Homo sapiens: one gene and its partners. The protein of the gene in region 3 interacts with the protein of the main gene of each other region in a biochemical or structural test. Each region holds a gene or a part of one and is shown on either strand. Other genes may lie near its edges. The genes, in order: RALA, DLG4, RALBP1 and SYNJ2BP.

Region 1 (7,552 bases), on a different chromosome or scaffold from region 3:
GTGGATTCGCATAAATAAAACCTGGAGAAAGAACTGCCTCAAAGCCAGATGTCCCAGGCCTTACACACTTGTCAAGAACCACCCACAGATATGTACTCTAGGATTACCCCCCAGTGGATAAACTCATCTAATTACAAACCTGCTGATAGGGTGTGGCTGTGTCCCCACCAAAATCTCATCTTGAATTATAATCGCCATAACCCCACTTGTTGAGGGAGGGACTAGGTGGGAGGTGACTGGATCATGGAAGCAGTTTCCTCCATGCTGTTCTCGTGACAGTGAGTTCTCACGAGATCTGATGGTTTTATAAGGCAGTTTTTCCTGCTCTTGCATGCACATGCTCGCTCCTGCTCACTCTCATGAATTCTCATTCTCTCTCTCCCCTTCTCTCTCTTTTCTGCTGACATGTAAGACACGTCTGCTTCATCTTCTGCCATGATTTTAAGTTTCCTGAGGCCTCCCCAGCCATGTGGAACTGTGAGTTAATTAAACCTCTTTTCTTTATAAATTACCCATTCTCGGGTATGTCTTTATAGCAGTGCGAGAACAGACTAACATTTACCTTGCTATATGATCTAGAAATCCAAGAAGTCAAGGCAGCAACATATCAATACAAAACAAGCCTTGCTCATCTGCAAAGCACACACACCACTTAAGACTGTGAAGCCTAGAAGGGAATCCCTAGATTTTCATAGACCTATGACAGCTTTAGCCTAGAAGGGAAAAGGAGGTCACCCTGTGGCATCTATAACTAGCTGGGTAAAAAACAAAATGAAATCCAGAAAACTGTGTAGAGAAGCAAGAAAACTCAGGGCTGCTTGTATAAACTGAGAAACCATGGAGCAGTTACCATGCTAAACACCGTATTTTCCTACCATGCACTAGGAAAGTTGACCTTTCCTGCTTCTTACCACATCCATCTCCTTAAGTATCTTTTGTTAAAATTTAATTTTTTAAAAATTGAGATGGGGTCTCACTCTGTCACCCAGCCTGGAGTGCAGTGGCATGATCTCAGCTCATTGAAGCCTCCCCTCCTGGGCTCAAGTGATCCTCCCACCTCAGCTCCCTAGTAGCTGGGACCACAAGCACATGCCACCATACTTAGCTAATTTTTGTACTTTTTGTAGAGACAGGGTTTCACCATCTTACTCGACCTGGTCTCAAACTCATGAGCTCAAGCTACCTGCTAGCCTCAGCCTCCCAAAGTACTGGGATTACAGGCCTTAGCCACCACGCCCAGCCAATCTCCATAAGCATCTCTTAAAGACACAGCGAAGGACTGTGTGCAACCCTTGTAAGGTATATACATAGCCAAACTATTATCTACATTGAAATGTACACATTTGTATATCCATGGTGAAGATAATACAATGAAGCAATCAGTACCTCTATTAAAGACATTGTTACACTGCTATTTAATCTTGTTCTGGAGATATTAGTCAGTGCAATTAGATAAATAGTTAAAGGCATAAACACTGGAAAAGAAGGAAAAAAAACTATTTACAGATGACACAATAGTATATCTGGAAAGTCTGAGAGAAGCAATGATGGAAGTAATTGATATGATTTGGATGTGTGTCTCTTCCAAGTTTCATGTTGAAATGTAATTCCCAAGGTTGGAGGCGGGCCTAGTCGGGGGATGTTTCCGTCATAGGGCAGATTCCTCACGAATGGCTTGGTGCTGTCCTCACAGTAATGAGCAAGTTCTTACTCTATTAGTTCACATGAGAGCTGGTTGTTTAAAAGAGCCCAGAACCTCCTCCTCTCTCTCACTCTTCTTTTGCCATGTGTCACACCTGCTCACCCTTCGCCTTCTTCCATGAGTAAAAACTTCCTGAGGCCTCAACTCGCCAAGCAGATGTTGGTGTCATGCCAGTACAGCCTGCAGAACCGTAAGCCAAACAAATCTCTTTCCTTTATGAATTACCCAGTCACAGGTATACTTTCATAGCAATGCAAAAGAGGCTAACATAGTCAACTTAGTAACAATTTGGCAAGGTGGCAGGAAAATATGCAGAAATCAACAATATTCGTATAAATGGACAATAACCAGTTAAAATACATAAATGATAAGAAAACTATAATAGCAACAAAAAAGATAAAATAGCTTAGGAATAAGCAAGAAATGTTGAAAACTTGTATGAAGAAAACTATAAACCATTCCTCAAAGACACAAAAGTAGAATGCAAAAAATAAAAAGACATTGTTTGTTTTAGGTTAAGATGTCTCAATACCATCAAGATGTCAATTCTCTAGCAGGGCATGGTGGCACACACCTGTACTATCATCTACTTGGGTGGCTGAGGCAGGAGGATCACTTGAGCCCAGGAGTTCAAGGCTGCAGTGAGCTATGATGGCACCACTGCACTCCAGCCTGGGCAACAGAGGGAGACCCTTTCTCCAAAAAAAAGATGTCAGTTCTTCATAAGTTAGTATAAGTTCAATGTGATCCCAATAAAAACAGCAATGAGGCCGGGCACCATGGCTCACGCCTGTAATCCCAGTGCTTTGGAAGGCCGAGGCAGGTGGATCACTTGAGGCCAGGAGTTTGAGACCAGCCTGGCCAATATGGCGAAACCCTGTCTCTACTAAAAATAAAAAAATAAGCTGGGCATGGTGGCACACGCCTGTGGTTCCAGCTACATGGGAGGCTGAGGCAGGAGAATCGCTTGAACCTGGGAGGCAGAGGGTACAGTGAGCTGAGATCGCACCACTGCACTCCAGCCTGGGTGACACAGTGAAACTCTGTCTCAAAAAAAAAAAAAACAAAAACAAAAAACCAGCAATGAATTGTTTCATAGACTTAGACAAATTGATGCTAAAATTCATACAAGAAGGCAAGAAAAACAATGAAGAGGAAGCGCTATAATGGGTGACTAGCCCTACCAAACATTAAAACATACTACAAAGCCTCTATGATTAAAATGATGTGGTACTGGTGCATGAATGGTGAGATAATCCAATAGAAAAAAAATATACCCAACTGCATATAGAAGGAACAAGAATTTTTTTTTCTTTTTTAAATAAATGTCATTGGGGCAACTGGATAGCCACTTGGAAAAGGATAAAATTAGATGCATTCCTTATATCATACATAGAAATAAACTCTGAATGGAACTAAATGTGAGAAATGAAACTATATGAGTACCAGAAGAAAGCATGTGTGAATTTCTCTATAACCTGAAGGTAAGAAGTTTCCTGAATATGACTAAAACTTCAGATGCAGTAAATTTAAAATTTATATATTTGACTATATAAAAACAATCTTTTGCATGGCAAAAAATCACCACAAGCAATGCCAAAAGACGACTAGCAAAAATATCTGCAACATATGTCAAAATTAAACGGTTAATATTCTTAAATAGAGAGAACTTTTCAAAGCTGAGAGGAAAAAAGACTGAAAGTCGTATAGAAAATGGGCAAATTGGTCGGGCACGATAGCTCATGCCTGTAATTCCAGCACTGTGGGAAGCTGAAGTGGGCAGACTGCTTGAGCCCAGGAGTTTAAGACCAGTCTGGGCAACATGTTAAAACCCCATCTTGACAAAAAAAAAAAAAAAAAAAAAATTAGCAAGGCATGGTGGCATGCACCTATAATTCCAGCTACTCAGGAGGCTGAGGTGGGAAGATCACTTGAGTCTTGGAGGCTGAGGCTGCAGTGAGCTGTGATCGCACCATTGCACCGCTGCACTCCAGCCTGGAGGGTCCAGCAAGACTCTGTCTCAAAAAAAAGAAAAAAAGTAAAAGAAAGCTCGGCATGGTGGCTCACGCCTGTAATCCTAGCACTTGGGGAGGCTGAGGTGGACGGATCACGAGGTCAGGAGTTTGAGACCAGCCTGACCAACATGGTGAAACCCCATCTCTACTAAAAATACAAAATTAGGGTCAGGCACGGTGGCTCATGCCTGTAATCCCAACACTTTTGGAGGCCGAGGCAGGTGGATCACGAGGTCAGGAGATCGAGACCATCCTGGCTAACACGGTGAAACCCCATCTCTACTAAAAGTACAAAAAATTAGCCAGGCGTGGTGGCACGCGCCTGTAGTCCCAGCTACTCGGGAGGCTGAGGCAGGAAAATCGCTTGAACCTAGGAGGCAGAGGTTGCAGTGAGCTGAGATGGCGCCACTGTACTCCAGCCTGGCAGAGTGAGACCCCATCTCAAAATAAATAAATAAATACATACACACATACAAAAACGTGCTAGGCGTGGTGGCGTGCACCTGTAATCCCAGCTACTCAGGAGGCTGAGGCAGGAGAATCGCTTGAACCTGGGAGGCAGAGGTTGCAGTGAGCAGAGATCGTGCCACTGCACTCCAGCCTGGGCGACAGAGCGAAACTCCATCTCAAAAAGGAAAAAGAAAAGAAAAGAAAGTGAGCAAATAATATGAACAATAAAAATAAATATTAAAATGACCCTTAAACATATGAAAACATGTTCAATTCACTTGTAATAGAAGTACAAATGGAAAATACACTGAGATACAATTTCTTACCTATTAGATCAGCACAAATTCAAAAGCTGACAAAACACTGCTGGTGAGGCTGTGAGGAAATAAGCACTCTACTCTCATACACTGCTGGTAGGAATGCAAAATAGTATAACCCCACAGGATGAGGAGTTTGACAGTACCTAACAACTCTACATATGCATTTATCCTGAAGATGTATCTCTCCAACAATACAAAGATACATGTACACAAAGTTTTTCACTGTAACATCATTTGTAATTGCAAAATATTAGATATTACTTAAATGTTCAAACAGGACATTAGTCGAGAAAACTATGGTACATACACGATAGCAGTTAAGAATGAAAGTTACTGATTTTAGTTTATGTATTTTATCTTTTCACACAGCTACTGACTTGTTAGGAGATACATACTTATTAAGTTGTTCAGACCTAATTACTTAATAAATTAAACTGGCCAGGCATGGTTGCTGACGCCTGTAATCCCAGCACTTTGGGAGGCTGAGGCACATGGCTCACGAGGTCAGGAGTTCGAGACCAGCCTGGCCAGCATGGTGAAACCCCGTCTCTACTAAAAATACAAAAAATTAGCCAGGCATGGTGCCGCGTGCCTGTAATCCCAGCTACTCGGGAGGCTGAGGCAGGAGAATTGCTTGAACCTGGGAGGTGGAGGCGGCAGTGAGCCGAAATCGCGCCACTGCACTCCAGCACGGGTGAAAGAGCGAGACTCCGTCTCAAAAAACAAAAAACAAAAAAATTAAACTGTTAGGTGTTTCTTTTGACCTAGGGATGCTGTGAAAAAAATTACTGCGATAATAAGGGTGCCATGAATTGAGAAAGTTTGGGCACTTGACTGATAAAGGCCTACGAAGAAGGCCTTTAAGAGAGAGAAAGAATGTGTGTGTGTGTGTGTGTGTGTGTGTGTGTGTGTGTAGTTATGAGGTTACTGTGGACTGCTGTCAACAAAATTTACAATAGGCTAATGAAAGTACTCTCTCCAGTGTAGTTAAGAGCTGTAACAGATATTATGACAGCACATAAGAGAAGCAATCAGCCCAGTCTTAAAGGTTTTTTGTTTTTTGTTTTTTGAGGGATGGGATCCAGAGAGAGAACCTAATTGTAATTTTTTGGAGAATTATAACCTAAACTGAGTTCTGAAGGACCAGTAGGAGTATACTAGATTAGGGGAAGGAAGAGAGGCTAGAATTCCAGGAAGAGGAAATGGAGGACTGAGTAAACAAACACTAGCATTCCAGAAGCTGGGTATTGGTAGAACAAAAGATCATCCAAGAAGAGAGATAAGGCTAAAGGGTTAGGTAAGAAAAAAAATGAAAAATATGAAAGATAAAGGGGAAAAAAGAGAGTTAGGTAAGGAGCACATCTTGAAGGTTTTGTATATGAGATTAAGGATAAATGGAGTTTGAATTTTATTAATGGGCAAAAAAGAGCCACAAGAGGATTTTAAGCAGAGAAATATCACCATTGTTCTAAGCAAGAATGGGAAAAGTATCAGATGGGTTCCAACCATAGGCTAGAAGGCTGCTGTAGTAATCCAGAATATCTAGACAGGGCAGCTGAACTCAGTGTTTGGTCACGCAGTGTGGCAACCTCCACTTTTAATGGAGTACTATGTTAGCTTCTCAACTACATAAGAAAACAGATCCTGTGGCTTAGATGACCATAATCATAACTTTTGGAAACTGGGGGATCTTTGCCCACCTTCCCAATAAATCTGGGAGTATACGCCATTTTATAATCTAACTATGTCTTATTGTCCAAAATAACATTACCAAACCCTGACATTTAGTTTCAAAAGTAAATTCAGCAATAAAATTGGATCCCAGACTTTAAGGAGACTATGTATGTCAGTGTTACATCTATTGCATCTAATATAGGACCCTAGCTGTGAAGGCCTTTAAGAATAGTATAATTTTATGGAAGCATGCCTTTTTTGGCTTGTAAAGACTACCCTCTTGACTTTCAGAAACTAAGTCATCACCTTCACGTATAATTAAATCAAAGATGCAAATTCTCACCTAAAATTTACTCATACATATTTTAGAAACCCATAGAACTTTAATTTCTTTTTTTCTATACGGCAACCCAAATCCTTATGAATGCGATAAGGTAATAAGAAAGATGTCTTAAAGAAAAAACAGAATAACTGTTACTTATGGGGGCCAGACAATCAGCTGTTTTTTACTTAAGGGTACATCTTTTAAAAAAAAAAAAGAGAGAGAGAGAGAGATGGACACATTCTTCAAATTAAGCCTATTTAAAAGTGCATTTTAAAAAGTGCACAGGCTTAGGAGGGAAGAGAATTCTACCAGCACTGAATAGCAGCTAAACCCTTACAAGACTTCTGCCACTTTTAAGCCTCCATCTTAAACCCAGAGAAAATGATTAATGGTCTCAAACGGTTAAAAACAGACCAAGCACATCTCTGCTTCTTTTACCATTCTTTCTACTGTCCCCCATAGCTTCTCCCCCATTTCCATTAGTGAAAGAACGAACTAAAAAAAATGTGATTTCAAGGAAAGGTCACTACAAATAGATTTATGGTATTCCTCTCAAATAGGGACGATTCTGTTACTTTAAAAAGCACTAATCAAACACCAGAATTGAGTCCAAATACTTTACCGGGACACCCACGGGAAAAATGCCCAACCATTTTTCCATCATGGCACACATGGACGGTGATAACACTGTATTTGTAGGCACGCTGAAGATAAAAGAGAAGAATGGCTGCTGCTTGAGGCCACCTGGCCAGGACTGCTGGCAACCCCAGGCCACACTTGATGTCCAAGAGAGAGGAATCAGTATCTTCACCTTCCTGAAGCTCCAGTTCCAGCTCAGTCAGAACTGCCTTTTCCACAGCCATTTAGGATTAACTGCAATAATACTCAGTGCTCTCAGCAATTGTTACTTTCAAATCTAGGCTCTACTAAACACAAGCTAGGTGCCTAGCCTCTGGCAAATAACTTCAATTTACCTTAATAAAGTATGGGAAAACTACCTGTCTTGCAGAAGTGTTGTGGAGATTAGAAATAATTTAAGTAAAGCTCTTATCACAGTGCTCGGCAG
Region 2 (7,552 bases), on a different chromosome or scaffold from region 3:
GCAGCAAGTGCTGGGGCCAAGGCAGGGGCCAGGGCTCACCTTCCATCTGCGTCACTGTCTCGTAGCTCAGAACCGAGTCTTCTCGACCTGGTGGGAGGTGGGGCATCTGCAAGGGGCTCTGAAACAGGGGACCTGGAGCCCTGTCTCCCCCTTGAGGATATCAAAAGCAACTCAGTGCTCCTCTCACCCACATCTTCCCGAACTAACCCTACCTACCCTGCGATCCAGAGCTGGAGCCCCAGTCCTAAGAAGAAAAAGCAGGCCACGGGGTTAGTTATGAGCTCAGCTCCATGAGCCCTCACACTTCCACCCAGGCTCACACCCTCCTCCACCTACCTTGGCCTTTAACCTTGACCACTCTCGTCGCTCAACCCTGTGGGATACATGGAGGGATACGCGGGTAGGGGAATGCCTACCCCCTGCCACCCCCATGCTCTGAGCCAGCTGACAACCCCTTCTCCATACTCTGGGCCAGCTGACACCCCTTCTCCTGCAGCCCTGGACACTGTGCTCCTCAATAAGGAGTTGTCCTTCCCAAAGGCTCATGGGAGCCACGGACCCCAGGAGGGCCCAACAGACAAACCCCTAGGAGTTCAGAGGGCAAACCCATCCCCTGTTGGCTGCCCACCCCGGGGGACCTTGGGAACTTCAGTGCCTGTGGCAGGAAGGCTACAGAGCCCAGGAGCCTCACCGCCGTTTGCTGGGGATGAACCCAATGTCGTCGGTCTCACTGTCAGAGTGGACCCGCCGTGCCTGCCACCACTCCTCATCACTAGCATCGATGACATGCAGCACATCCCCAAAGCGGAAGCTCAGGGCCTGGCTCAGGAAGCCGCAGTCCTTGGTCTTGTCGTAATCAAACAGGGCCCTGGAGGGCAAGTGGCTATCGGTCAGAGCCCAGCTGAGGACTCCAGGAAGGATGCCCCAGTCACCCAAAGACCCGGCCCAGAGGTCTGCAGATGGCACTCCCATGGGAGCTATGGATGCCGAGGAACCCAAAACTGTGTGGGGACCAAACGCTGACTATAACTCATAACAACTATTAGCCATCACTCAGTCCACACTGAGCACAGTTTCCAGAGGCAGGGCTTGAACTTGACCCTCTCAAGAAAGCAGTTTGGGCCAGGCGTGGTGGCTCCCACCTGGAATCCCAGCTGACTTTGGGAGGCCAAGGCGGGCGGATCACAAGGTCAGGAGATTGAGACCATGGTGAAACCCCGTCTCTACTAAAAATACAAAATATTAGCCGGGCACGGTGGCGGGTGCCTGTATTCCCAGCTTCTCGGGAGGCTGAGGCAGGAAAATGGCATGAACCCAGGAGGCGGAGCTTGCAGTGAGCAGAGATCACGCCACTGCACTCCAGCCTGGGCAACGGAGCGAGACACCGTCTCAAAAAAAAAAAAAAAGAAAAAGAAAAAGAAAAACAGAAAGCAGTGTGCAGTACACACGCACATCATAAAGTCACAGGGGTAACCCTGAATCTGCCCAAATTCATAAGAAAAAGAAAATGTCCCGTGTTTCCAAATAATGGTTACCCTTACCAGTATCAAATTTCTATCAGTAAGTCACAACCCCTGGGGTCAGAACCAGGGAAGTAATGAAGACACAGAAGAAAGCAATGGGCCTGGAGAGGAGGGAGGAGACCCCGGGCCCCCTGGAAGTGTGACAACCAGATGACATTCCGCCTGGGAGCCACTACACAACCTCTGTGGTCACTGGGAGTCAGAACAACCTTGGGGACCAACCGGACCCGAGCAGGGAGGAAGGGCAGAGCAAGGGCTCAGGTGGGAGCCAGTGTCTGGGTGGCTGGTGATGCCATCCAACAAGAGGGAAACTGCTGGCACAGCAAGATGGAACCCAGGCCCACAGCAGGATGATGAGCTCAGCGTGGGACATGTTGAGTGTGGGACGCCTGTGGGACATCCCAGTGGAGATGGCCAGAAAGCCAATGGCCAGAAGTGCAGGTCTTGACCTCTGGAAATAGGTCAGCCAGGGCCAGCACCTCCGAGAGACATCTGCAGAGCGCAGCGGCAGACGAGGCCATGCAAGCCACAGGGCCAGACAGGGACAGAAGTGGAGGGGTGACCCCCGGGGGCGGGAGAGAGGTGTGTTTTGGCAGAAACCTAAGCCACAAAAAGAGTCAATGGAGACGAGCCCTAAGAGGGGAGCAAAATGCCGCTGGAGAGACGGGGGCAGGCACCACAGAGCTGCGGCCCACGTCTCCGGGACTGCCCACAGGGACGTGAAGGCTGGGGCAACACTCCAAATACCCTAGAGGACCCTGCTTCACCAAGCATTAACCTTCGAGACGCCAAATTGTGGGGTGGCCTGGGAGTCCCGGGGAAGTGCTGGGATGACCAGGGGCTAGAAGGCAATTGGGATACTTGGGGCAGAGGCTATTTTCCCATCGACAGGGAGTATTTCAAATGTTAACCTGTGCAGCCAAGCCCATGAACCCTGGCTGCGCCTCAGGCCTGGGGTGGGGAGCTAGAGCAGGCAGGGTGGAGAAGAGGAGCGGCTGAGGCCCGGGCCAGGCACAGAGTGCCCAGGAACGCAGAGGGGCTGAGGAGTCCAGCCCGGGAAGCCTCTGACCTGATGTAGAAACCCCTTTTGGGGTTGCTCCGCAGGGACGCAGTCCCTGAGCCCAGGCTGCTGTTCATGAGCTGTTCCCGAAGGTCGTGGATCTTGGCCTCGAATCGGCTGTACTCTGAGGAAGGACAGGGAGGTTTCTGAGCTCTGTCCCCATCCTACTGTCACCCCTGTCCTCCCCTACTGAAGCCATCAGCTGAGGAAGAGTTCTAAGGGCCATTTCAGCTCACAAGACAAGGAACTTCCGGCCTGGTACCTTCTGGTTTATACTGAGCGATGATCGTGACCGTCTGACCCGCATTCTTCAGGGCAATGGCAGCCTGCTCATGGCTGGCATTTCGGAGGTCCACACCGTTGACCTAGAGAGAGGACGACAGGCTGTGTCACCAGAGACAGGAGGCAGCACTTCTGGGTCCAGGTGGAGCAGGGAGTGGTCCCGCAAGAGGACTCGGCTGCAGCCCATCCAGGCCCCTCCCCAAGAGCTCTGCGCTCTGCCCTGTGGGGAGGGGGTGGTGCAGGTAGGGGCAGGCCTTCCCTCACCGACAGGATCTGGTCCCCCTTCCGCAGCTCCCCACTGAGGTCTGCAGGGCCCCCGGCCAGGATAAAGGAGATGAAGATGCCTTCACCGTCCTCGCCACCCACGATGTTGAAGCCCAGGCCCGTGGAGCCCCGGTGGATCACAATTCGCCTCGGTTCTCGGGGAATGTCTTCCTCCCCGAGCAGGTCCTTGGCCACTGGAGAGTAGCGCCGAGGGGAAGTGGGGGTCATGGCTGTGGGGTAGTCGGTGCCCAGGTAGCTGCTGTGACTGATCTCATTGTCCAGGTGCTGGGAATAAGCTGAGGAAGACAGGGCAGAGATGAAAGTGCCTGGAGGGAAACAGCACCCGCCACCCAACCTTCTCCCCAGGGTGCCAGAAGAGCCAAAGTTAGGTGGAAGGGAAGATATTCTGCCAGAGATGCCAGGGTGGGGTGGTAAGGGGATATCAGATCACAGTGACATCAGGGGTCAGGAATTTATAGGTGACATCAGAGGCTGGTTGTCCTAGGGGATAAAGGATTTGAACGTTATATGTCCTCAGTATGCCAGGGATGGGGAAGTCAAAGGGAGCATTAATATTACGCTTTGGGGGTTTTCTCTGGGTTCCTGTGTCACTCGAATCTCTTAATCCATAAAATTCTTCTCCCTCTTTTTTCCCCCCACCTCTCTGCCATCCATTCGTTGAAAAAACTAGGTCATTTGTCTAAAAGAATTTCCCACATTCTATGAGGGAAATTCTTTTGTTTTTTTGGGGTTTTTTTGAGAAGGAGTCTCAGGCTGGAGTGCAGTGCCGTGATCTTGGCTCACTGCAGCCTCTGCCTCCCAGGTTCAAGTGATTCTCATGCCTCAGCCTCCCAAGTAGCTGGGATTACAGGCGCGCGCCACCATGCCCAGCTAATTTTTGTATTTTTAGTAGAGACAGTGTTTCACCATGTTGTCCAGGCTGGTCTGGAACTTCTGAACTCAAATGATCCACCCGCTTATGCCTCCCAAAGTGCTGGGATTACAGGCATGAGCCACCTTGACCAGCCTATGAGGGAAATTCTAACAGGGAAATTACTGCTTACCCTCCTGTGGTTTGTTTAGCCTATGCCTCTGCCCCTGTATCTCCTGTAAACTGGCAGTTCATTCTGGAGGCTTGATCAGTTTCAAGTTCAATTCAGAGTTTTTTTTAGTAACTCCTGTATACTTCATAGGTAGCGCTACGTTCTTCCTACAGCATCACCACAGGATGCAATAATGCCTGGTTGTCTTTCTGTCAGGTAAGATTAATGGTAGGTTCAGGGTCATCAGCCCAGTCCATCCATTATCTAGCGCCCCATCAGCCTTTCAGGTAAGTTTTAGCCACACTGACAATCACCGCCTGGTTCTGATAAGTATCAAGGACTGCAAAATGGTGGTGATTGTCATTTACTAGTGGGAATTCTTCTGTAAAAAAGAAAAATCTCGACCAGGCACGATGGCTCATGCCTGTAATCCCAGCACTGTGGAGGCCAAGGCAGGCAGATCACTTGAGGTTAAGACTTTGAGACCAGCCTGGCTAACATGGTGAAATCCCGTCTCTACTAAAAATACAAAAATAGGCTGGGCGTGCTGGCTTACGTCTATAATCTCAGGTACTCGGGAGGCTGAGGCAGGAGAATTGCTTGAACCCAGGAGGCGGAGGTTGCAAGGAGCCAAGATTGTGCCACTGCACTCCAGCCTGGGTGACAGAGCGAGACTCCCTCTCAAAAAAAAAAAAAAAAAATTCCTCCAGCTTGGGTAACATGGTGAAACCCTATCTCTACAAAAGACAAAAGTTGAAAGTTAGCTGAGGCTGGGCGCAGTGGCTCACGCCTGTAATCCCAGCACTTTGGGAGGCCGAGGCAGGTGGATCACAAGGTCAGGAGTTCAAAACCAGCCTGGCCAAGATGGTGAAATCCCATCTGTACTAAAAGTACAAAAATTAGCTGGGCGCAGTGGCAGGGCCCTGTAATCCCAGCTACTCGGGAGGCTGAGGCAGGAGAATTGCTGGAACCCGGGCGGCAGAGGTTGCAGTGAGCCAAGATCGTGCCACTGCACTCCAGCCTGGGTGACAGAGTGAGACTCCATCTCAAAAAAAAAAAAAAAAAAGTTAGCTGAGCATGATGGCACTCGCCTGTAATCCCAGCTACTCGGGAGGCTGAGGTGGGAGGATCGCTTGAGCCCAGGAGGCGGAAGTTGCAGTGAGCCAAGATCACACCACTGCACTCCAGCCTGCTGGGTGACAAAGCAAGACCTGCCTCCAACAAAAAAAAAGCAAAAACAAAAACAAAAAAACAGCCCTATGTCAACCTGTTGGTTACTCTCTGAGGTAGCTGGTACATGAAAGGGAGGATAAATGCATGCCTCTCTCTGCATGCCTCTTTCCATTCATTCACCAATTTCAGAATGAATGAGATTGCCTAGCATCCTCCAATTTTTTTTTTAATTATTTATTTTTTTGGGATGGAGTTTCACTCTTGTCGCCCAGGCTGGTGTGCAGTGGTGCGATCTTGGCTCACTGCAACCTCTGCCTCCCAGGTTCAAGGGATTCTCCCACCTCAACCTCTCCAGCAGCTAGGATTACAGGCACCCACCACCACGCCTGGCTAATTTTTTGTATTTTTAGTAGAGACGGGGTTTCGCCATGTTGGGCGGGCTGGTCTCGAACTCCTGACCTCAGGTGATCCGCCTGCCTCAACCTCCCAAAGTGCTGAGATTACAGGCATGAGCCACCGCGCCCAGCCAAAATATTTTTAAGTATTATTATGATCTTAAAGATTTTAATATATTTAACGAGTTTTCACTGGACAGTAGAAGCACCTTCAGTTTGGATCCTGTGTCTTTGCTGAGACCCTATTAGTCCTGGATACCTTCCTTGCTCTCTAGTATGAAAGAAGTTAGAAGCTCATCTTACAGATTTATTGCCAAAGATTTTAAATTGGCTGGGCACGGTGGCTCAGGCCTGTAATCCCAGCACTTTGGGAGGCCGAGGTGGGGGGATCATGAGGTCAGGAGATCAAGACCATCCTGGCTATCACGGTGAAACCCCATCTCTACTAAAATATACAAAAAAATTAGCCAGGCGTGGTGGTGGGCACCTGTAGTCCCAGCTACTCGGGAGGCTGAGGCAGGAGAATGGCATGAACCCGGGAGGCGGAGCTTGCAGTGAGCCAAGATCGTGCCACTGCACTCCAGCCTGGGCGACAGAGCGAGACTCCGTCTCAAAAAAAAAAAAAAAAGAAAAGAAAAAAAAAGATTTTAAATTGACCCTTCTTCCAAGGAGCCCAGGTTCCTTTTGTTAGGTTATGGTATTTAGGAATAGTACCACATGATTTTAATATGGTTTTACAGTATTATTTCATATTTTGTAGGGGCTGCCACACCTCATTATTTGTTTCCAAAATGTCTTAGCTTTTCCACACAAATTTTTCCAGTCAAACTTTAGTGTCAACCTTCCAAGTTCCCAGTAGGGAAACAACATTAAAATTCTGATTAGGATTGAATGGAATGTAGATTAATTTGGAGCCGGTTGAGATCTTTAGCATATTAAGTTTTTCCATCCAGAGACACGGTGTGACTCCTCACCCCTTCCAGTCTTGTTTTATGTCTTTCAGTAAAGTTTTGTCATTTTCTTCATACAAATCTTACATTTCTTGTCAAGTTTCTATTTCTAATAATTTTATAGAAATTTTTTCTATGGCAAAAGGGGGCTTTTTATTCACTACATTTTCTTATTGCTGGGAAGTTACTAATTCCTGTTATTTATCTTACAAATAGCCACATTCCTTTTTTTTTTTGTCGTTTTTTGAGACAGAGTTTCACTCTTGTTGCCCAGGCTGGAGTGCAATGGCGCGATCTCAGCTCGCCGCAACCTCCGCCTCCCAGGTTCAAGCAATTCTCCTGCCTCAGCCTCCTGAGTAGCTGGGATTGCAGGCATGCACCACCATGCCCGGCTAATTTTGTATTTTTAGTAGAGATGGGGTTTCTCCATGTTGGTTAGGCTGGTCTCGAACTCCCAACCTCAGGTGACTCACCCATCTCGGCCTCCCAAAGTGCTGGGATTACAGGCATGAGCCACCGGCGCGCCCAGCCTGTTTTGGTTTTTTTTTTTTTTTTTTTTTGAGATGGAGTCTCGCTCTATCGCCCAGGCTGGAGTGCAGTGGTGAGATCTTGGCTCACTGCAAGCTCCGCCTCCCAGGGTCAAGGAATTCTCCTGTCTCAGCCTCAGGATTAGCTGGTATTACAGGCGCTCGCCACCACACCCAGCTAATTTTTTTTTGTATTTTTAGTAGAGACAGCGTTTCTCCATGTTGGCCAGGCTGTTCTCAAACTCCTGACCTCAGGTGATCCGCCCGCCTTGGCCTCCCAAAGTGTTGGGATTACAGGCATGAGCCACCTCGCCCAGCCAACAAATAGCCACATT
Region 3 (8,446 bases):
AACGTCGACAAGCACGGCACTACTACACCGAGGCCTCCACCGCCTGGGCCTGAGCACGGCCGGGCCATTCCCAAACTCGGGACGCAGGAGAGGATCTCGGAGAAGAAGAGGCCACCCTGAAGCACACAGTTTACGTCAAAAGTTTACATGGAGAAGGCGGTTCCGTTCTGAAGCGCGGTCTGCTGTCCTTTTGGGCGCGAGGCATGTGGTGTTCGCTGTGAAGCCTCCTGGGCCTGTTGGTCCTCCGATTTCATCCTCGGGACATAATGCTTACCAACAGTACTTGCACTGAGTTGACACTCGTGCACTCTTGACTCCAGATGTTTTTCAAAATGTATGTTCACACCAATAATTGCCTACTTCAGAGGCTAATAAGACAAAACCAATAAAACTGAGTGATGGTGTCTGTATTGGGAAAAAAAAAAGTGTTCCATGTTCTTTCTCACCTACGTTTCTGCCCACCTTTCCCTCTAAAAGTTCCTTCCCCATCCCTGCCCTAGCCCCCCAATTTCTGCATTAGTCATGACTAAGCCTTCTTTAAGCTTAAGGACATAAAATATACAGTACCTAATACAGTGCCTGACCTATAGCAGAGGGTTAAAAATGGGCTGAGCTGGCTTAGGTCTCTTCTTTGTCCTCTCAATGACTCCTATTTGCTTATAAAATAAAATTGTAATTATTCTGATGGTCTGCAAGATCCATAATTTGGTCTCTGCCTATCTCCCCAGTTTCAGGTCTTGCCACCACCCTGTATTATACTTGCTATTTTTGCAGATGCTACTCTCTAATTTTAGACTCCCATGCTTTTTCTCACACTGCTCCTTCTACCTAAATGCCCATTCTTTCTATGCCTGTACACTCCTGATTTTCATCACCTTCTACATAGTTTTTCCTTACAGTTTCCCTCTTCTTCAGCTCTTTTCTTCACTTTAAGAAACTGACCACTATCTCCTTTGTACATCCACTGTACCCGCATATGTTCTTCAATCAAAACAATCTTGTACTTGTTGACAGTTAAAGTAAGAGATAAGGTTCAACTACCCTGAAGGCAGGAACACTGCCTTCTGTATCTTTAAGTCCTCTTCACCTGGTCACAGTACTTTCTACATAGTAATTCCTGTATTCTAAATAATCTGCATTTTTCCTTGTACCCTCTTATACAAACTAACATAAGTTTCTATCAGGGATCTTTCAAAACAGAAACAATATTCTTTTGGGTTACATGCTGGGCCCGATCTCTTCTTGCCAAGCAAACAACTATGCAAATATAACTGTACAAATTAAAGTTATTATGCACTTTCTGATACCACTTTCCTATTCTAAATTAGGGGAGAAATAGTCTGGATAAGATCCATAATTAGAAACAATATCCTGAAGAGAAAGCAAACTAAGTTGTATTACATTGTTTCGAGATACCTTGTTTAAAGAGTCACTTCTCAAAAGCTACTACTGTTGGCAGGGCGCGGTGGCACACGCCTGTAATCCCAGCGCTTTGGGAGGCCTAGGCGGGCAGATCACCTGAGGTCGGGAGTTCAAGACCAGCCTGACCAACATGGAGAAAATGTCTCTACTAAAAATATAAAATTAGCCGGGCGTGATGGCGCATGCCTGTAATCCCCTCAGGAGGCTGAGGCAGCAGAATCGTTTGAACCCAGGAGGCAGAGGCTGTGGTGAGCTGAGATCATGCCATTGCACTCCAACCTGGGCAACAAGAGCGAAACTCTGTCTCAAAAAATAAAAAACTAAAAAAAAAAAAAAAAAGCTACTGTTAACTAACCTACCCCACTTGGATCTACCAGATACTTTGAATGAGAGGTGGAAACCACTCTACTGACCTCCTTCCTACCCCTACTACCGCCACTCCAGCTTACAGTAATTATTTTCACAAAGACAGAAAGGAGTTATCAAATGACCACAATAACTCTAAAAACAGAAAGTGAGGTGATCTTTCTTATTCACAGTCCCACTTATTCATTTAGAAATGCTGAGCACCAAAACAAAACCTTATCACAAGTTCAGTATTTCGTTAATAACTGCCAAGTATAATGGAATACTCCCCAAAGTACTGCAGCATTAGAACATGACCACTCCACTAAATTAAAAATTCAGCGAAAGCTTTTCTAACAAGGCTGGATGGAGCACTAACTCAACGGCCAAACGGCTGCACTTCCTGTATATGCACGTTCAAAACACCTCGAATTAACATGCTAGGGACCTTGAAGAATTGTACTAGGCCTTGCTCAAGAGGAAGGCTTTGTAATACTGAATCCCAAAACTTGAAACAGCAGAATTACTTCAGGGAAGACGGAGGTGTTAAATATTCTGTAAAACCTGTTTCACTCTCACAACGATCAGTTTTAAAAAAAAGAGGGAGAACACTGACCTCATTAAGAGCATTCTGACAACACACATAGTTGAACATGAGTTGTGAAAAGAATTTTCAACTTCAGATCTGTCTGTCCATTCCCACTGAAACCTGAAGGAAGGATCGCAGCACCCAAAGGCGCCCACTGCTCAGTGCCAGCGGTGGGCGACACCAGGAGCCTGTCCTGGTCCCCTGGGTAAGCCCTGGAGCCTGGCCACTATGCCGGGCACGATCCACCAACCGTGAGGGCTGGGTCCCCTAGCCTCTGTCCAGGCGCCCCCCAAGAGCTTCCCCGAGGCCTGGGGACTCCTAACTCTCCACCCCCGGCCCCCGAGAGCACCACAAACGAGGACGCCACGAAGGGAGGCCCGTCGGCCAGTGGGAGGGACGCACGGCCAAGGGGGGCGAAAACTGGGGCGAAGCTTTCCGGGGAGGAACCCACGCCAGGGGCAGCCACGCCCCCCACCCCCAACTTCAAACCCGAGCGCTGCGAGCACCGAGCCCCACACGCTGCCTGACAGACGCGGGCGCGAGGCCGGCGCGGGAGAGGGTTCCTCGGGCACTCCAGGGGTATCGCCGCGACCCTAGCACGCGACCGCTCCCTGCGACTGACCTGTGCCTGCCGCCGCGCGACCGTCCGCCCCGCCGCAGCCTCCGCCTCCTCGCGCTCACGCTGCCGCCGCAGCCACCGGAGCCGCCTCCTGCGCTGCGCCCCAGGCCGGCCTCGGGCGCCCCATTCCCACCCCGCCCAGCCTCTGCCTGTTTACAATGATTGGGACGGAACGGGACGAGGCGGTCCAGCGCGCACGCGCATTCCCTCCTCCCGCCGCAGCCGGCTTCCCGGATCCTCCTCTCCGCTCAGACGGCTGAAGCCGTCAAGGGCAGGCGACCTGGGCTCTCGCGCGGGGCGCGCTGGGAGGCGTAGTTCCCAAGGCCCCGGCGTCCAGCCAGCCCGAAGGCCTCTCGCCAAGGAAGCAAACTACAACACCCAGGAGGCACCGCGCCCCCTTCGTCCCCAGGCTCGCTGAGGAGACTGAAGAAGAGCGCGAGAGAACGCGCCGAGGGCCAGTGCTCTGCAGGCGCCTGCGCAGTCGGTGGCCTTGCGGGTTTCGGGGACGGACGGCTTACCCCGGTGTGGTGCTGGCGAAGGTGGCTCGCGGGCATCTCCTGCAACGGCCTTGAGGATGGAAAGGGCTTTCCTCTCCACGCTCTGGCCAGCCTGCGCCTCAGCTCCCGAAGTTGAGAGCTTTCCTTGCGCCAGCGTGCTTTAGTCGTTCCAACCAGTTAAACCAGACTGGGGGCCGCCCGGCTGGCCGCTGGGTGGGGCGGCTGCCCCGCCTTCGACTGGGTGTGGGATTGGAGGAAAGAGCGCCGTGGGCCTGTAGGGATAGGCGGGAATAAACCTCTGTCGGGAACATCCACGGAATTCCTGAAGCGGGTGTGGGCTTCTGCAGGGCTTCAGCGCGCCCCCGGCTCAGCAGTTACCGAGCAGCCCCCGAGGAAAGCTGCCCAGTCCGTGTTTGGCTGGCAGTAGAGATAACTGAATTTCTTCGAGAAGCCTTTCACCCAGGCTTGTTGAGTTGCTCTGCTAATGCGTAGCGAAGGCTGGAAACGGCTTCAGCAGTCTTCGTGTTTTCTGAAATGTGGCAGTTTATTAGGGGAGAGGAGGGACTTGGAATAGACGACCCTACCTGTCACTCGCATTCCTACGTGCAGCACTCTGTGGCACTTCGTTGCCCGTTTAGATTGGCCGCTGCTATCCATCTTGCTCTCTGCTCCCACATCAGCTTTCCTCAAAGCGGGCGGTAAATTTGTCCCTAGTACTCTGCGCTCCCTACTCAGTAAAGTTCAACCCCTGGGGCCTTAGATTCATTCAGGGGCCTCCCACGAGTGGATACGGGATGGTCTGAGGTAGCCATTGGTCTTTGACTTTCGGAAAAGCCTTCTCATGGCTCCTCTCGCAGTAGAACAGTCTTCTCTGACCACTGGGTTGGGCAGGTGAGCATGGCAGTGACAATTCTCTGCCTGTGACAGCACTGATTCGGCCAAGGGGCAGGCACTGATCCACGCTGGGCCTTATGGAGGCCTTGCCTGAAGCTGCTATGTGGATGCAGGAGGGGAGCAGAGGGAGTTTTCTACTGAGGCAATTGCTGATGGACGTGTTTCTTGCAACATCGAGTGGCCTAGCCAAAGGTGAGGGTGTGAAAGAGAAGAAAGGAGAAATGGAAAGGGAGAAAGAGCTGGCAGAATGTAGACCGTGGTTTCATTTGGAGGGCATGGTTTGTGGAGCTCTTTAAGTGCTGTGAGCATGTGAGCCTAAGTGGGTGAGCCCACTCATTCATTGATTTATTATTTGGAGCCAATATGTGTGGATATTGAATGTATTTGTTGGCTGCCACTTGAGCATTTATTCCTTCCATTTAAGCCAGGCAACATAACCATTCCCTCTAGCAGCAGAGATGGTCACAAGCCCAGTCAGAAACAATGAACCCACAAAGACTGGGGCTGAGGCTTCCAGTAAACTGTAGCTTCCTTGCTCCTCTAGCATGGTGTAAGTATATGATGCCTGGAAATGTGGCAACCGTTTTCCTCCTATAAGGGGAAACCCTAGAGGGATGGGAGTTTAGAGGGACAGCAACAAGTAGAGCCTGGGGTTGAAGTCAGTACTGTCAAATGAATGCGGGAAAGATGGAGAAGAACCTTGTGTTTGGTGGCATGATTTGAGCTGCAGTATCAAACCTCACCTGTTTGATTCTATGGACTATCCTATAGACTATTCGGGATTGTGAGCAAGGCCATCTTACAGACTATCCAGAATTGTGAACCACAAATTTCCTGTACTGTTTAAGCCAGTTCATATTAAAATTCTAAAAGTCCTAACTAATTCAGTTGAATTTCTTTTACATGACTCTGAAAGGTCCTAACTAATACAGGTTCCTACGTAAAAAACTGTGGAAGGGACTTTTAGCTATGTCTGTGTGGCATAGTCAGCAATTCTCTGCACACAAAACCAGTATAAAATTGGATAAATTGGCAAAAACAACCATTTCAGAGCACTGGAAATCAAACAAATACAGAAAACAATTTGAGAAACATCTATTCTTCAGAAACAGCTAGCAGGGACAGTAGATGTCTGTGGCCTTCTGGCCTGAGGCTGCTTCTCTCCCACCCTGTTGCACCAGAACTGCAGTTTTGCCAGTGTGGGTAGGAATAGCCAAGAAAACTAGCAGCTTTGCTGCCAAAGGGATGGACTCAATTTGGGGCGGGTGGTCAAAAACCCAAGGCTTTGCCAACTAAAAGTGACAAACTCATATGGAAATGAACAGGGCAAACCCACAGCTGTGCTTACCTGAGGTTACAGTCCCAGGTGGGGCAAATGGCAAGCCAGTCAAAAATATAACAGGGAGATTTTAGAAATAAGAGTCATTGAAGAGTTATGGTCACACCACCTCACTCCAGCCTGTACTTTTCAACTCTAGAAATATCATCCTTTTTTATAGAGTCTACTTCCCCACAGAAATACTCTATTTGTTAATTACATCTCCACACATCTCTGACTGATTGGGAAACTATGCATCTGCCTGGGGTTGACCCAAGAGACCTGTTAAGTAAATCCAAGGGAGACTTGAGAACTGGTGGCAACTGTGAATGTATTCCTTAATCCACACACAGATCCATTAGCAGAGGGAAGAAGACTCCCAAATCAAGGTGTTTGAGTGCAACCACTGCCAAATCATTGACTAGCCACAGCTATGCAAACACAGGGACAAAGCCCAGAAAGTCAGGGTAAATATAAAAATGTGAATTGAAAAACAGAGCAAAGATACCAGCAGCCACAGGCCATATAGAGACAGATTTTAAATCTGTGTAAATCCAGGAAGATAAAACAACAACAACAACAACAACAAAACTAAGAAAAATAAAACATCTAGAATTGCTGCAATATATGAAATATCTGCTTTTCAACCAACAATCATGGTTTATGCAAAGAAACAGTAAAGTGTCACCCACTCTGAGGAAGAAAATAGCAACCAATAGAAACAGACCCATTGGGCTCAAATACTGGATTCAGAAGCAAACTCTTGAAAGTAGGTCTTATAATTATGTTTTAAAAAGTAAACATTTTTCAAAGAATTAAAGGAAAATATAATGATAATTCTTTAACATATAAAGGATATCAATAGGGAAATGATTCTATAAAAATGAAATTTCTAGAGTTGAAAAATATAGAAGAGAAATATAAATTGTATTACATAATCTCAGTGAAAGATTTGAGATGGCAAAAAAGGTGTACTTGAAGATAGAGAAATTATCGTATTCAAAAAACAGAAAAATGAAGTAAAAGAAGAGCTATAATGACACATCCATAAAAAAGAGGATATTTTTAGCAATAAGCCAGACTCAAGGACATAGACTGTAGCTTTAAATAGAAAAAGAAAAAACAGGGAATGTAAACTAGTACAACCACTATGGAAAACAGTATGGAGTTTCCTTAAACAACTAAAAGTAGAACTACCATTTGATCCAGCAATCCCACTATTGGGTATCTATGCAAAGGAAAAGAAGTCATTATATGAAAAACATATGCACACACATGTTTATAGCAGCACAATTTGCAATTCAAAAGATATAGAACCAACCTGGGTGTCCATCAACCAATGAGTGGGTAAAGAAAATGTGATATATATATAATATCTTATATAATATATATAATATATATGATATATCATATATTATTATAATATATATAATATATATATATATATACCATGAAATACTACACAGCCATAAAAAGGAATGAAATAGTCTTTTGCAGCAACTTGGGTGAAGCTGGAGGCCATTATTCTAAATGAAGCAACTCAGGAATGGAAAACCAAATACCGTGTGTTCTCACTTATACTTGGGAGCTAAGCTATGAGAATGCAAAGGCATAAGAATGATATAGTGGACTTTGGGGACTTGGGGCGGGGCAGGGAAAAAGGATAGGAGGAGGGTGAGGGATAAAAGACTACGTATTGGGTACAGTGTACACTGCTCAGGATACAGGTGCACGAAAATGTCAGAAATTACCACTAGAGAACTTACCCGTGTAACTAAAAACCACCTGTACCCCCAAAACTATTGAAATAAAATAAAAATTATTAAAAAAGAATACCTACATAAAGAAAACATGCAAACAAAAATCTTAAAATTTTACCTGCATATAGATAACCATTAATAATAGCTTGGTATATCTCTCAGCCTTTGGGGTGTGTATGTATATTTTTTAGCATAACATTTTATTTTACTTCATTTGCTAAAACTAATGAAACCTGAATTTGGATTATTGAGACAAAAATCATACTGCAGAAAAGCACTAATTTTATTAAATTAAATATTGGAAGGGTTGGGGTTTTTTTTTTTTTTAGTGTTTTAGGTTTTTTTGTTTGTTTTGTCTTGCTATATGATGTTCAGGAACTACCATTCAATGAATTTGACAGATAAAGTTTGAACATATTGGTAGGGAAATAAGCCAATGATTTGAATTACTTATCTATACAGAAGAAATAGTTTTAAGATTTAAGACCATATGAAATAAACTGGGTTAAACTAGGAAAAAAAATGGTATTAATGAGAGAAAGAGCATGGTAGCACTTTTTATATTAGAGATCATAGGTAAATATCAGCTGTTATAATTTTTATTAAATATCAAACATCAACCGGGCATGGGCGGCTCACGCTTGTAATCCCAGCACTTTGGGAGGCCAAGGCAGACAGATCACCTGGGGTCAGGAGTTCAAGACCAGCCTGATCAACATGGAGAAACCCCGTCTCTAACCCCGTCTCTGTATTTGTATTCTCTAAAAAATACAAAATTAGCCGGGCATGGTGGCACATGCCTGTATTCCAGCTACTCAGGAGGCTGAGGCAGGAGAATTGCTTGAACCCAGGAGGTGGAGGTTGCGGTGAGCTGAGATCGCGCCATTGCACTCCAGCATGGGCAAAAAGAGCAAAACTCCACCTCAAAAAAAAAAAAACATCATTTTACCGGAGAATGAAACAAATTATTACATAATAGAGAATCATGAACCAAAATCAACA
Region 4 (7,552 bases), on a different chromosome or scaffold from region 3:
CATGAAGATATATAGGGAGGAGACTGTCTCAAAATACCACTAGAAACTAATCACCACTAGAAACTTCCACATAATTTTGATGGTCCCATAAGGATCTTTCTATCTATGGAAGAAATATGAAAATCCTCTAAGTATGCATTTCTTTTGTAGGCAGCATTGCCCACTCTTTGTGTTTGTATAGCTGTGTACTCAGGAACCTGATGTTTAATCAGATCCGAGAACATGTGTACCATTCCCCCTTTGTGTTCTGTCAGGGACAAGAATTGTGGATATTTCCAGTGTTTGGGCCCATATTATAAGGCAGTCGAACCTGTTCCTGACTGATCTGCTTACTGCAAGGGAAGTAATGAAATCTTGGGGAAATTATGACAACAGAGTGAAGAGGCAAAAGAAGCTTGACATGTATTAGGTTGGTGCAAAAGTACAATTACTTTCTTTTGTTCTTCTTTTTTTTGAGACGCGTCTCACTCTGTCACCAGGGTGGAGTGCAGTGGCACGATCTTGTCTCACTGCAACCTCTGCCTCCCAGGTTCAAGCAATTCACCTGCCTCAGCCTCCTGTGTAGCTGGGATTACAGGCATTTGCCACCATGCCCGGGTAATTTTTGTATTTTTAGTAGAGACAGGGTTTCACCACGTTGACCAGGCTGGTCTTAAACTCCTGACCTCAAGTGATCCACCTGCCTTGGCCTCCCAAAGTTTTGGGATTACAGGCGTGAGCCACCCCGCCCAGCCATAAGTACCACTACTTTCAATGGCAGAACCGCAATTACTTTTGCACCAACCTAATAGCATGGAATCTCTCCTGTTGTCTGCTTTCTCAACTGTAAGAAGGGACTTGGGCTAGATGACTTCAGAGGTCTCTTCCATCTCTAAGAGTTCATTCTTTGGCTCATTTTATGATTATTTATGTTATTTTATGTTTCCTACCATTTGGAACTTCGTTTTGTTTTTATTTCCTGCCATTTTAGACTAATAGTATGAGCTGAAGAATTACAAAGGCAGTGGCTACAATCTCAAATGTCTTCAAGGGTTGAACAGTTTACCTTTTATCTTTAGTGGAATCTTGTTTTTTTCTACAGGAGTCCAGCTTGATTATAGTATCTAAGGCTCTCACTTTTTCTTTATCAAATTGAAAGTCTCTTAATGCGTCTCAAAACTCAGTTACTCTAAAAAGTGTGACAAGACTGTTTAATATGTTTTTTTGCACTGCAACAGGTAAGAGATTGGCCATAAAGACAACCTTACTGTACATTGAGTACTATGATTAGGAATCTTGTTTTTAGGTCCGAGTCCTCAATGGGTTTCAGCAAGTTACTCCTGATATGCCATCTTTAAAGAGGGAAGAGAATATTTATTTTCTTACTTTCTTTAAAGGCCTTGGAAAAGATGATGGGTTGATGGCAGTGTTTTAATAATGAATACTAAAGGAGGTATTGTCTTTCCGGTAGTGTGCTAGTTACTATATATACATATATATACTGTATATATACTATACATACATATATATACTGTATATATACTATACATACATATATATACTGTATATATACTATACATACATATATACTGTATATATACTGTATATATACTATACATACATATATATACTGTATATATACTATACATACATACATACTCATTTAATCTTCACAGCAACCCTGAGTAATAAATATTTAATCCACATTATTAGATTGGGAAATTGCCTTGGGGAGGTTAAGGACTTGCCCAGTTTCTAATGCCAGTAAATTTCAAAGGATTTTTAACCCAGGTGTGTTAATTCTGCTATACCATATACTACTTTCCACTGCAGTAGCCATGTTTAAGAAGTTGACTGCCAACCTTTCCCCTGACCTTTATTTTATTATATCATGCCTTATTCCCAGAAGCATTTGAGGCATCTTAAATGACTAATACAACCTACAGTGGAAAGTTTTTATTGCTTGCTCTTGATAGAGCTGAGGGCATATCAAGGTGAGTACCTAAAATCAAGATGCCCCATTAAGTTCTATCATTTAAGCCTTGTAGACCTGTCATAGGCTTTGGGTTTCATGCTAACTGAAACTGTTGCTAGCAGTTTTCTGATCTATTCCTTTCTTCACATATCAAATAGATGTGAGGCTAAATGCTATATCCTTGCCCTATTTTCTCTTGCTTACACAAAGTCTCGCCTTCATGGAGTTTACAATCCAATAGAGATATGATGTTCACATATGAAAAATTAAATCTCACTGCAAAGGTGCAGATAGTTAAGGAAAATGATGAGGAGGTAGTTAGTGGGAGGGCAAAGGAAGTGCGGAAAGGAGCATGGTAATCTGACCCTGTGTTGGGAAAGTTCAAGAATGCAGACACTGCTGAGAACCATTAAAATGGTCAATTAAAAGAACGTGGAACTTGTGGGTCTTCTGGAATGGACAGGCTTTAGGCTAGGGCCAGAGTCAGGGATGAGTATGGCCTAAGCAATAATAGAGAGAAGAAAATAAGCAGAGCATATTCTGAGGTTAGTGAGTAAACCAGCCTGGACAGAAGGAAAGTTTCCTTTAGGAGATTCAAGAGAGAAGAGGTAGCTGAGTAGTAACCTGAGTAGGTGGAGATCAGATTATGGAGTCTTTAGTGTTAGTATGGAAACTTAATCTTTCTCTAAAGTTCTATCTGGATTCTTTCTACTTCCTAGCCATTGATTAGGACTCAGTTCAACAGTTAGCTCCTCCAGGAAGCAGGCTTTACCTAGGATAGATGTTCTCTTATTGTCTATATTATACATCATTTACAGATTGCCTGTAATGTATTCCCATGTATTGCCAAGCTAAGCACTGTATCTTGTCCCCTTGTAAAAAGGAAGAGATGAAATGGTTATTATCCCCATTTCAGAAATGAGGAAACCTTGACTTCTGCATTATACAACTCTTTAAGTGAAGATTTCGATCCAGGTCTGTGTGACTTAAAATTCCAAGCCCTGAATCATTATAAATAACTTTTTTTTTCTATATGCTTTCTCACTTATGTCTCCTCCTTCTACTTCACTTTGAGCTCTTCTGAGTCAAAGAACATATATTTTATTTCTTATTTTCTTTCATTTAACTATTATTTTAGGTTCAGGGGTACATGTATAGGTTTGTTATATAGGTAAACAGTGTCATGTGGGTTTGTTCTACAGATTTTTTCGTCACCCAGGTATTAAGCCTAGTACCCATTAGTTATTTTTCCTGATTCTTTCCTCTCAACCTCCACCCTAAGTAGGCCCCAGTGTCTGTTCTCCTCTGTGTGTCTATGTGTTATTATTTAGCTCCCACTTATAAGTGAGAACATGTGGTATTTGGTTTTCTCTTCCTTTGTTAGTTTGCTAAGGATAATGGCCTCCAGCTGCATCCACGTTCCTGCGAATGACATGATCTTGTTCTTTTTCATGGCTGCAAAGTATTCCATGGTGTATATGCACCACATTTTCTTTGTCCAGTCTACCATTGATGGGCATTTAGGTTGATTCGATCTCTTTGCTGTTATGGATAGTGCTGCAGTGAACACATGCATGCATGTGTCTTTAATGTTTTTTTAATGCTTTGTCTAGTGCATGACACACAGTGGTCAGTAAGTGTTCATTAAATGACTGAGCAAACTGATAGATATCATAATAATATAATGGAATGTTTTTATATTTATTTATTTATGACATAGGGTCTTACTTTGTCACCGAGGCTGGAGTGCAGTGGCACGATCTTGGCTCACTGCAGCCTTGACCTCCTGAGTACAAGTGATCCTCTTGTCTCAGCCCCTCAAGTAGCTGGGACTACAGGTGTGTGTCACCACACCTGATTAATGTTTTTATTAGCCATATTTTTCATAGAGACGGGGTTTCACCATGTTGCCCAGGCTGGTCTCCAACTCCTGAGCTCAAGTTATTCACCCACCTCGGCCTCCTAAAGTGCTGGGATTACAGGCGTGAGCCACCACACCCAATGTACTTATTTATTTTTGAGACAGGGTCTTGCTCTGTCCCCCAGTCTGGAGTACAGTGGCACTATGACAGTTCACTGCAGCCTCGACCTCTTGGGCTCAGGTGGTCCTCCTGCCTCAGCTTCCTGAGTAGCTGGGACTACAGACATGCACCACCACACTTGACTAATTTTTTTTTTTTTTAATTATTTGTAGAGACGAGATCTCACTATGTTGCCCAGTCATGCCTTGGACTCCTGGGCTCAAGTGATCCTCCACCTCAGCCTCCCACAGTGCTGCGATTCCAGGCATGAGCCACTGTGCCTGCCATAATGGGATGTTTTAAATAAAGAGAAGCAGTAACATGATCTGTTTCAGCTTTCAAAAAGTGGTAAACATGGTTCTTCACTAAATACAATTTGAGAAAGAGAGAATGAGGATGGACACATTGTATTATGATGGATAGGAAACTGGCTAAGATATCAGAAACAAGGAGAAGGAGTAGATGGAACACCTCTTGGAGAGAGTCAGGTAAATGGAACAGTTCTCTAAAGATTGCTTCAAGGATCAGTATTAAGATCTTTTCAAAACAATACTAAAGAAAAACTGTACAGTAAAATATCTAGGAATTACTTTGGGGAAATAGAAAGGCAAGCTGATAGATGTTCAACTGCAGAAACATTTTGCGAAGCCATGTGACTAGCCAGAAAAGTGGTCAATGATTACATGTGATAAGTACACAATTATTTATTGAGGGAAAAATAGCCAAACTATACTTAGATGATAGGGTCAGAACTGCTGGTTTCAGAAGACTGAAAAGTAAAGTAAAACTATTTTTTAAAATTTATTTAGCATTTATTATGTGCCTACACTATGATTAGGAATCATGGACACTAGAATAAAGAATAAGAAATGATCCCCATTTTTAAGAATTTTGCAGTTCAAGCCAGGCATTGTGGCTCTTGCCTGTAATCCGAGCACTTTGGGAGATCAAGGAGGAGGACTGCTTGAGGCCAGAAGTTCAAGACCAGCCTGGGCAACATAGCAAGACTCCCATCTCTGCCAACAAAACAAAGCAAAACAAAACAAAACATTAGCTGTGTTTGGTGGTGCATGCTTGTAGTCCTAGCTACTTGGGAGGCTGAAGTGGAAGAATTGCTTGAGCCCAGGAGTTCGAGGTTGTTGTAGTCCTAGCTACTTGGGAGGCTGAGGCAGGAGAATTGCTTGAACCTAGGAGGTGAAGGTTGCAGTGACCTGAGATCGTACCACTGCATTCCAGCCTGGGCGATACAGCGAGACTCAGTCTCAAAAAAGAAAAAGTGCCAGAATGCTTGAGTTCAAATCCTTACTCTATCACTCACTCACTGTGTGACCTTGTGCAAGTCACCTCACTTCTATCTGCCCCAGTTTCCTCAGCTATAATATGAGAGTATTATTAGAATCTACTTATAGAGTTGTGAGGATTCAATGATTTTTTTTTTTTTTGAGACGGAGTTTTGTTCTTGTTGCCCAGGCTGGAGTGCAGTGGCGCAGTCTCAGCACACTGCAACCTCTGCCTCCCGGGTTCAAGCGATTCTCCCGCCTCAGCCTCCCAAGTAGCTGGGATTACAGGCGCCCGCTACCACACCTGGCTAATTTTTCTGTATTTTTAGTAGAGATGGGGTTTCACCATGTTGGCCAGGCTGGTTTCTAACTCCTGATCTCAGGTGATCCACCCATCTCGGCCTCCCAAAGTGTTGGGATTACAGGTATAAGCCACCACGCCTGTCCGATTTTTGTTTTATAAATAATTTGTAGTGACGATTCTGTACTGTCTTAAGCACTTTACCACAAAACAACTCATTTAATTCATTGAAGTGCTTTAAGGATACTGCTATGTGGGGAGTAGACTTTATGGGGCAAGAATTGAGTCATCTAGGAAGGGTAGGGTAAGCTGTGTCAGTAATTTCAGGGATATGGGGCTTCTGTTTCTCTTTTTCCCTCCTTTTATGCCTTAGTTTATAAAAAAACCCTATTACTGCAATAGTCCTTCCCCCTCCTCCAAAAAAAAAAAAAACCTGTTAGAAGCTCCCAGAAACATTTTTAACCTTGTGAGATTTCCCTAGAACTGGAAATGTTAGAAATTCCTGACCTAGGTGTAATTTTCAATTCCAATAATAGTCAATTGACACCAGTTGGGCTTTGTGTATGTACTAGGTACTATATTGGCACAGGAGGTACAAAAATGAATATAAGCTAATTACATTGTCTTCTAGGAACGAATATTGCAATAGGGTAATGAGACAATTAAACAAGTAATTTCATGTTTTCAGGCAAAGGGAAGAAGACATCCAAAGTCACGGAGATAAGCAGTAGCTGTGGGCGGGGATGATAGGGTGAAAAGCGATAGCAAATATTAAATTTTGTTTACTGTATAATGCAAAGTAGAGAATGTCCAAAGATGGCTAGAAAGGTAGATTATGGTGATTTTGAGTTTAAACTTCATCTTCTATGTTTTTTTTTTTACTTTGATTTTATCTTGGGGATATACTTAGAATTTATTTAAAAATCATTTTATCATATTTGCATAGGAAATAGTAGAAAAAGTCTACTGTAAGGAGGATACTATAACAAATTTTTTTTTTGCTTAATTAACACAAAATTGGTGCTTTGAGAAACTTTAGCCTTTTATTATTGACTAAGTTGGTGCAGAAGTAATTGTGGTTTTTGCCATTTTTTTTTTTTTTTTTGAGACGGAGTCTCGCTCTGTTGCCCAGGCTGGAGTGCAGTGGCACAATCTCGGCTCACTGCAAGCTCCGCCTCCCAGGAGATCACGCCATTCTCCTGCCTCAGCCTCCCAAGTAGCTGGGACTACAGGCGCCTGCCACTATGCCTGGCTAATTTTTTGTATTTTTAGTAGAGACATGGTTTCACCATGTTAGTCAGGATGGTTGTGATCTTCTGACTTCATGATCCACCTGCCTCGGCCTCCCAAAGTGCTAGGAGTACAGGTGTGAGCCACCGCACCTGGCCGGTTTTTGCCATTTTTTATAGCAAAAACTGCAATTACTTTTGCACCAACCTAATAAGTAGGAGTCATTAATAAATGTTTAAAATGCTTGCATTTTTGTACATAATCACCAGGTTCATCTCAACTTTTTTGAGGCATGATTCACATTCAATGAAGTGCAGGTGTAATCACCCAATGGGTTCTTCTTGCTCGCTGCCTAGACTGAGCCAATTTATCAAGGCAAGGGAATTGCAATAGAGAAAGAGTTTCATTCACACAGCGCTAGCTGTACAGGAGACTGGAGTTTTATTATCAGTCTCCCTGAAAACTCAGGGATCAGGGTTTTTAAGGATAATTTGTCAGGTGGGGGGTTGGAAAGTGGGGATCACTGATTGGTCAGGTCAGAGAAGAAATCATGGGGAGTTGAAGCTGTCCTCTTGTGCTGTGTTGTTTCTTGGGTGGGCACTACAAAGACTAGATGAGTTAGTTTATAGATCTAAGTGGTGCTGCCTGATCCATTGAGTGCAGGGTCTGCAAAATATCAGAAGCACTGATCTTAGGTTTTACAATCGCGATGTTATCCCCTGGAGCAATTCGGGGAAGTTCAGAATCTTGCAGCCTCCAGCTGCAT

The links.
Region 1: the proteins of RALBP1 (region 3) and RALA form a complex in vitro, tested with the Homo sapiens proteins (3 studies listed by BioGRID).
Region 2: the proteins of RALBP1 (region 3) and DLG4 interact in a biophysical measurement, tested with the Homo sapiens proteins (2 studies listed by IntAct, with this or other methods).
Region 4: the proteins of RALBP1 (region 3) and SYNJ2BP form a complex in vitro, tested with the Homo sapiens proteins (2 studies listed by BioGRID and IntAct, with this or other methods).

What each region holds. Positions count from the first base shown.
Region 1 is NC_000007.14:39,626,226-39,633,777, reverse strand, and holds part of RALA (ras-related protein Ral-A precursor), read right to left. Parts: intron 1,883-7,552; exon of another isoform or gene 1-1,882. UniProt on the Homo sapiens protein: Multifunctional GTPase involved in a variety of cellular processes including gene expression, cell migration, cell proliferation, oncogenic transformation and membrane trafficking.
Region 2 is NC_000017.11:7,193,628-7,201,179, forward strand, and holds part of DLG4 (disks large homolog 4), read right to left. Parts: intron 3,426-7,552; coding exon 3,130-3,425; intron 2,949-3,129; coding exon 2,846-2,948; intron 2,708-2,845; coding exon 2,593-2,707; intron 869-2,592; coding exon 692-868; intron 374-691; coding exon 337-373; intron 245-336; coding exon 217-244; intron 88-216; coding exon 40-87; intron 1-39. UniProt on the Homo sapiens protein: Postsynaptic scaffolding protein that plays a critical role in synaptogenesis and synaptic plasticity by providing a platform for the postsynaptic clustering of crucial synaptic proteins.
Region 3 is NC_000018.10:9,470,224-9,478,669, reverse strand, and holds the start of RALBP1 (ralA-binding protein 1), read right to left. Parts: upstream 3,158-8,446; 5' UTR 2,979-3,157; intron 2,976-2,978; exon of another isoform or gene 2,384-2,975; intron 406-2,383; exon of another isoform or gene 148-405; intron 1-147. UniProt on the Homo sapiens protein: Multifunctional protein that functions as a downstream effector of RALA and RALB. As a GTPase-activating protein/GAP can inactivate CDC42 and RAC1 by stimulating their GTPase activity.
Region 4 is NC_000014.9:70,406,539-70,414,090, reverse strand, and holds part of SYNJ2BP (synaptojanin-2-binding protein), read left to right. Parts: intron 1-7,552. UniProt on the Homo sapiens protein: Regulates endocytosis of activin type 2 receptor kinases through the Ral/RALBP1-dependent pathway and may be involved in suppression of activin-induced signal transduction.